Homo sapiens: one gene and its partner. The protein of the gene in region 1 purifies or fractionates together with the protein of each later gene. This does not show direct contact. Each region holds a gene or a part of one and is shown in the gene's direction. Other genes may lie near its edges.

Region 1 (3,155 bases):
CACTCCTGGCTGCCACTGCCCATGTAGTGCATTTGACTCGTGAATTACAATGATCGCCACACCTCTGATGTGGTTTGGTGCCCTGACGTGACTGAGAAAAATGAGGCCAAGAGAGGGGAAGTGATTCAACCAGAGTCCCACCCTGGTGAGTAGCAGAGGCAGGAAGAAAGTCAGATATCCTGAATCGGAGTTCTGTAACTGTTACTGGTGGCATTGTCCCTGTGAATGGGCCCACAGAGACCCCCTGGACAGAGGCTAGCCACACTGACTGGTAGGTCCTCTTTGAGGATAGCCTCCTTCCCAAAGGCATACATTTGGAACCTGAGTCATAGCAGTGTTCTGTGTATGTGGTAACATCACATGCAAGTTACAAGATGTCAGATGCATCTGTTTTCGTCATGCACTTTCCATCCATAGATAGAACCCATATTCAGGAATGAACCCAGGATGAATAATGAGGAATCTAGGATTCTAATTCCAACTTTCCTCATTTCACACTGACTTTGGGGACTTTTTACATTACAGAGATTTGGTCTTCCCATCGGTAAAATGGGGCTAAAACCTCCAACCTGCTTTCCTGCCTTGTGGGGACTGCTGTGCAATCTCTCCACATATGAAAGTTTATCCTCTAGGGAAGTAAAACATCAGCGGTTTCCAGCATGTTGAAGAACAGTGTTTCTTACATCATTCCTCCACCCCTAGGGTTTTGTAGGGAGGGTGAGTGGATGGGGCTTTGGACCCTCCATAGCTCCCAAACGGTCCTGTGTCATATTGGGCTTCCCGTAAGACTGTATTTTATAAAAACGCTCTGTAACAAGAAGGAATGGAGGCAGAGAAGGAAAAAAATACTCTTCCTGAACTAGCTATATACATGGGGAGCCCTAATGCACACATCTTGGATTAGAAACTCCAGGCCTGGGCATACGAACTTTTTTAACTAAAAAAGTAATATCTGTTGGATGTAAACCATGTGTAGCTTAATGTGTTTTTCTCATAGAAAACATGTTTTCTCATGTTATTTTATTGAGATGAAATTCACAAGACATAATAACTATTTTAACCCATTTATGCTGAATATTGCAAAGTTTTTTATGTGAAAAATCAAACCTTGGTGATGACCTTGAACAGTAGGATATAAATAACTCCTGCAAGCTTAGCGTTCCAATAATGGAACACTAGGCATAAATGGGTTAAAGTCTATCATTTAGTGGCATTTGGTGTGTTCACAATGTTGTATGACCACCATCTCTCTCTAGTTTCAAAATTTTTTCATCATCTCAGAAACACACCCTGTATCCATTAAGAAGTCACTCCCCACTACCCATCTCTCCATCCCCTGGCAGCCACTAATTTGCTTTCTGCTACTCTGGATTTGCCTACCCTGGACATGTCATATAAAAAGAATTACATTATATGTGACCTTTTTGTGTCTGCCTTTTTCCATGTAGCATAATGTTTTCAAGATTCATTCAAGTCATAGCATGTGTTGTAAATCATTCCTTCCAATACTTAATAATTTTCATGGTACTTTTAATCTACTTTAGATTTTTTATGATAGGAAGTTTCAAACATGTGTAAGTAGAGTAATAGAATGAATCCCCAAGTACCCGTCACTCAGATCCAACAGTTAGTATTTATTTCACCAAGGCCTGTTATTTTTTGATAAAAGTGCTCTGTGACAAGAAGGAATTAAGGAAGAGAAGGAAAAAAACTCTTCTGGAGCTATCTGTATCCATGTGGGGGAGCCCTAATGCACACATCTTGGATTAGAAACTCCACTGTCCTCATTGTTTCATCTGGGTGATGAAACACCCAGATTATTTTGAAGCAAATTCTAGACATCATGCCCACTCCCTCCTGCCCAGATTATTTTGAAGCAAATTCTAGACATCATGCAATCTTACCTGTACATATTTCAGTAACCATGTATTGTTTGGAAAGGCTCCTGGAAATTCAGATGCACAGTACTCAGTAAGAATCACCCAATAAGCCAGCTTTAGTCCACATGCTCAGGCAGCATGTCTTTGAAGTCTGTTTTAAGAGGCTCCTCAGTGACTGATTTGAAGCCAGGCTTGGGAACCTCAAAGATAGAGTGTTTATTGGTTTTGAAGTCACCTTGATCATCTGACTCTTGGCAGATTTATTTGCCATGATTTTGTTCATTGCCTTTCCAACCTGTAACAGGATAGAGAGTGCTGTTGACTGGGTATCCTGGCAGCCCTGGAAATTCCCCAGAAGAGGGCTTTGGCAGTGATTGGCTTAGCAAGGTTAATGCGTTCCAGCCAACCTAAGTATAACAGACTTCATGGGAGCAGTGTGCAGGGCTGGACACTGGGGCTCTAGTCCTGCTCCTGCATCTGCACCCTGCGTTTTCCACCTCACCCCTGCCTTTTAGTGCAAGACTCTTAGTGCACCCCTGCGTCACCCCTGTCTCTTAGTGCATTTATTGCCTTTGCAATGTCGCTATGTCCACACCAGATGGCACCTTTGTTCCATCTAACTTTCCATCTTTCCTAGGATGCTGATCCTCCCGCTGGCTTCCAGACAGACCTGGGACTTGGCAGTCATGCCGGGTGATGGTGTTCCTGCGGAGACCCTCAGTTGTCCTATTCCTTCCTAGCTTCCCTGCAATAAAATCAAGCTGCTTTTGTTGGAGATGTTGTCTTGCCTGGTCTTGGTGTTGCTTGCTCACATGTAGGTGGTTATGCTTACTTGGGTTGGAGTTTTGAGAGTTCCCACCTGGGAGTCAGACACCCTGTAGATTCTGATTCTTTGCTGTGTGATCTTTAGCAAATCACTTCCCCTCTCTGGGCCTCATTTTTTCCTCACCTATAAAGTGGAGGCATTGACCCAGAACAGTGATCCCCTTTCTTTTCACCAGTTTCATAGACTCTATATTTTGAAAAAATTTGTCTATCAAGTGAATTGCACAAGAGATTATCAAATGTTAAGCAAGTGGAATAGTAGGAAGAGGCTGTGGAGACAAACTGCCTGGGATAGAGTTCAAGCTCCAGTACCTCCTAGCTGGGCCACTTAACCTCTCAGTGTCCACAGACAAAATGTGATGATAGCATCTACTGCAAATGGTGGTTGTGGGGATTAAATGAAATGAAACATGTAAATTAATTACAGCAGTGATTGCTGGTTAAAAAATC
Region 2 (4,024 bases), on another chromosome or scaffold:
TGTGCCTAGTTCTAAGTATTTCTCATATACTTTTAATCCTGAGAACAATCTAACCAAGTAGCTGTTATTTTTATCCTCATTTGACTAATGAGGAATCAGGCACAGAGAGGTTAAGTAATTTGTCAAAGGTCACACAGCCTGTTAAGTGACAAAGCCAGGATTCCAACCCAGAGCCCATACTCTTACCCACTACACTGTGTACTGCCATGTGTGCATACAGATTTACACACACACACACACACAGCCATCAGGGGCCAACGTCCTTTCACCATTCCTACATGTAGTTTCTACCCTCAAGGTTGCCTCATGGTCCAAAATGGCTTCTGATGCTCCAGCCATCACATCTCAATTCTAGGCAGTAGGAAAGAAAAAGAAGGGAAGGACAAAGTGGCCCCCTTCTTGTCTTTAGCAGCCTTTCTAGAAATCTCACATAATATGTCTATTTCCAATACTTGACTAAGACCCAGTCACATGGCCACTTCTAGCCATAAGGGAGGCTGGGAAGGGTGTTTCAGTTAGCCGCATGGCCACCCTAAATCATTCATGGAGGGGTAAAGTGGATGATCTTTGAGGGTCACTGCCAGCAATCCAGTCCCAACTCCATCTGTAAGTCACGTTTGCCTTAGACAAATCACTTAGCCTCCCAGAACCTCAGCTTCCTCCTGTATAAAATGAGGGTTATAGGAGTTAAGGAACTGACTGTCTTGGTTTCCTGGGACTGAGGGATTTCCCAGTGCATGGGACGATTTGGTCCTCCCCATAGCAGTTCCTACATGCAGGGCTGCTGTTGGAAGAATTCAGCAAGATTGGGTGTGTTCTCCTGCTAGCCTCTGGTAGAGAAGAATTCAGCGAGATTGGGTGTGTTCCCCTGCCAGCCTCTGGTAGATGCCCACTAGATTAGTTTCTCTCCTCTTCAAGAGAGGAGGCGGGGCGCCTGGGGTAAGTGACTCCTGCAGGGTGTGCATGTGTGTGAAGCCTTCCAACACCCGTTCCTCATTCCAGCCCTACCGGATCTTCAACACCTGGCTGGGGGACCCGTCCAAGAACCTGTTGCTGGCTGAGGTCATCAACATCATCAAGCGGGAGGACCTGCTAAATAATGCAGCCCATGCCGGGAAGGCCCTGCTCACAGGACTGCTGGACCTCCAGGTAACACCCCCTCCCCTGCCCCGCCCCCACCACCCATGGCTCCCCGCAGCAGCCTCCGGGGCAACACTGGAGCTCTTCGGCATGGTGTTGTGCCTGCTGTTCCAGCAGTTCGTAACGGGCTGTGCTGCTCCTAGCCTTGGGGGCTTTGCACATGCTGTGTCCTCTGCAGGGGATGCCTCCCTATCCCTCCATCCCATTCCAACCCCTATTCCTGAACTCCTGGTTTTCTTTGTTGTTGTTTTTTTTAATTTATTTTTTATTTTTTTAATATTGAGACATGGTCAAGCTCTGTTAGCCAGTCCGGCCTTGAACTCCTGGCCTCAAACGATCCTTCCACCTCAGCCTCCCAAAGTGCTGGGCAGCGCCTGCCGGCACTGGTTATCTTTCTTATTTATTTTATTTTATTTTATTTGTCTATTTATTTTTTGAGACCAAGTCTTGCTTTGTACCCAGGCTGGAGTGCAGTGGCGCAATCTCAGCTCACCGCAACCGCTGCCTCCTGGGTTCAGGAGATTCTCCGGCCTCAGCCTCCCAAGTAGCTGGGATTACGGGCATGTGCCGTTATGCCCTACTAATTTTTTTGTATTTTGAATAGAGACAGGGTTTCACCATGTTGGCCAGGCTGGTCTCGAACCCCCGACCTCAGGTGATCCGCTTGCCTCAGCCTCCCAAAGTGCTGGGATTTCACGAGCATGGGCCACCGTGCCCGGCCCTGGTTATCTTTTGACACCAATTTCAGACATCCCCCCTTTGAGAGTCCCCCAAGCACTCCCTCTCTCACCCCCTCTAGTGTGTTCATTATTCCCGCCTTTGTGCAACCTGTTGCATACTTACCACTCGGCAGCACTGCCCTCCCCTGCTGGAGCTGGATTACTCTCTACCCTCAAGGTTTCGTCATGGGCCAAAATGGCTCCTGGAGCTCCAGCCATCGCATCTCAATTCCAGGCAATAGGAAGGAAAAAGAAGGGAAGGACAGAGTGGCCCCCTTCTTGTCTTTAGCAGCCTTCCCAGAAATCTCACATAATACTTCTAACACTTGATTAAGAGCTGGTCACGTGGTCACTCCTAACCGTAAGGACGTGTGGGGATGTGTGTGTGTGAGTGTGGCAGGCAGGCCTAAAGGGGTGTCTAAATGGAAGAGACTTTAATCTAAACCATCCCAGGGCCACACTCTGTGGGAGAGGGAGGGGTGTGTTCAAACTGCCAGCTCCCCAGCAATTGACAAGTGCAAGGAACATGCTAGAGTAAGTGCTGGAAGGACTTCTGAGCCTCAGTTTCCTTATCTGTGTAGACCAAAGTGAGCCCTTCTTCACTGGCAGGGGATTCAAGAATGTGCCCACTGCCAGGCACAGGGGCTCATGCCTGTAACCCCAGTACTTAGGGAGGCAGAAGCAGGAGGATTGCCTTCAGCTCAACTGAGTTTGAGACCAGCCCGGGCAACATGGTGAGAACCCATACTCCACAAAAAGAAACAAATTGTGCACATAAGTGTCTAACACGGTGCCCGGCTCTGTCACCCCCAGAATAGGACCATGTCTCCAGTTTCTACCAATGAGCTGCCGTGAAATAAGACTTGCTCCCCCAACTCAGCCCCCAGTACCCTGAAATTATTTGGGGTTTTCCAAGCCCTTGTTTGCTGTCCTTCATATGGACAGCAGAGAGTAAGGTGAAATCAAGGTCCTCCAGACTAGGCACCTGCATTTGTTTCCTTGTCTGCTGTAAAAAATCACCACAAACTGTGTGGGTTAAAACAAGAATTTATTCTCTCACAGTTTGGAGGCCAGGGTCTGAAATCAAGGTTTCAGCAGAGTTGGCTCCTTCTCGAGGCTCTGGGGGAGAATCTGTTCCATGCCCCTCTCCACCTTCTCGTGGCTGCCGGGAATCCTTCATGTTCCTTGACGTGTGGAGGCTTCACTCTGCTTCTGGCGTCACTTGGTGTTCTCCCCACTGTGCCTGTGTCTGTCTCCAGATTGTCTTCTTCTTATAAAGATACCAGTCATTGAGCCGGGCGCTGTGGCTCACACCTGTAATCCCAGCACTTTGGGAGGCCAAGGCAGGTGGATCACTTGAGGTCAGGAGTTCGAAACCAGCCTGGCCTACATTGTGAAACCAGTTTCTACTAAAACTACAAAAAAAAGTTAGCCAGGTGTGATGGCAGGTGCCTGTAATCCCAGGTATTTAGGAGGCTGAAGCACAAGAATCTTTGAACCTGGGAGGCAGAGGATGCAGTGAGCCGAGATAGTGCCACTGCACTCCAGCCAGGGCAACAGAGTGAGACTCCATCTCAAAAAAAAAAAACAAAAAACAAAAAACAGTCATTGCATTAGGGGCCATTCTAATGCAGGAAGACTTCATTTTAACCTAACTAATTATTTCTGCGAAGACCTTATTTCCAAATTAGGTCCTAGTCATAGGTTCCAGGTAAACATGAATTTAGGGGGCAGTGGGAGGAAACTATTCAATCCAGTACAGCTCCCAGTCTCAAAGCCCTGAGGGAGGACAGGCATTTCTTCTTCCAGAAGAACCACCTTTCTAGAAGAGCTGACGATGGAGATGGCTAACATCTGTGGAGCATCCACCAAGTGCCCAGCCCCAGGCTTAGGACTTAACATGTGAACCTTATCGTGCTAAAGTCTCACCACGGCCCCAGTGGGGTCAACAGCATTTAAATCCTTCAGTTTATAGCAGGGTAAACAGAGGCACTTGAGTGGCCCAAGGTTATACAGTGAGAGGGACAGAGCTGGGCTTGGTTGTTGTTGCTGGTGGTGGTGGTGGTGGTTTTTTTCCTCCACACAACACACATGTGCACAGCTGGGCTTTGAACCCAGGCCTGAATGTCCCCAGAGCTCTTAACCCCCTGGAGGTCCTGCCAGTC

What was found.
Region 2: the proteins of ATOX1 (region 1) and ABAT fractionate together in Homo sapiens (co-fractionation; one large-scale study listed by BioGRID). This does not show direct contact.

Annotation. Positions count from the first base shown.
Region 1 is NC_000005.10:151,742,322-151,745,476, reverse strand, and holds the end of ATOX1 (copper transport protein ATOX1), read left to right. Parts: intron 1-2,517; 3' UTR 2,518-2,655; downstream 2,656-3,155. UniProt on the Homo sapiens protein: Binds and deliver cytosolic copper to the copper ATPase proteins. May be important in cellular antioxidant defense.
Region 2 is NC_000016.10:8,775,342-8,779,365, forward strand, and holds part of ABAT (4-aminobutyrate aminotransferase, mitochondrial isoform 1 precursor), read left to right. Parts: intron 1-1,002; coding exon 1,003-1,149; intron 1,150-4,024. UniProt on the Homo sapiens protein: Catalyzes the conversion of gamma-aminobutyrate and L-beta-aminoisobutyrate to succinate semialdehyde and methylmalonate semialdehyde, respectively. Can also convert delta-aminovalerate and beta-alanine.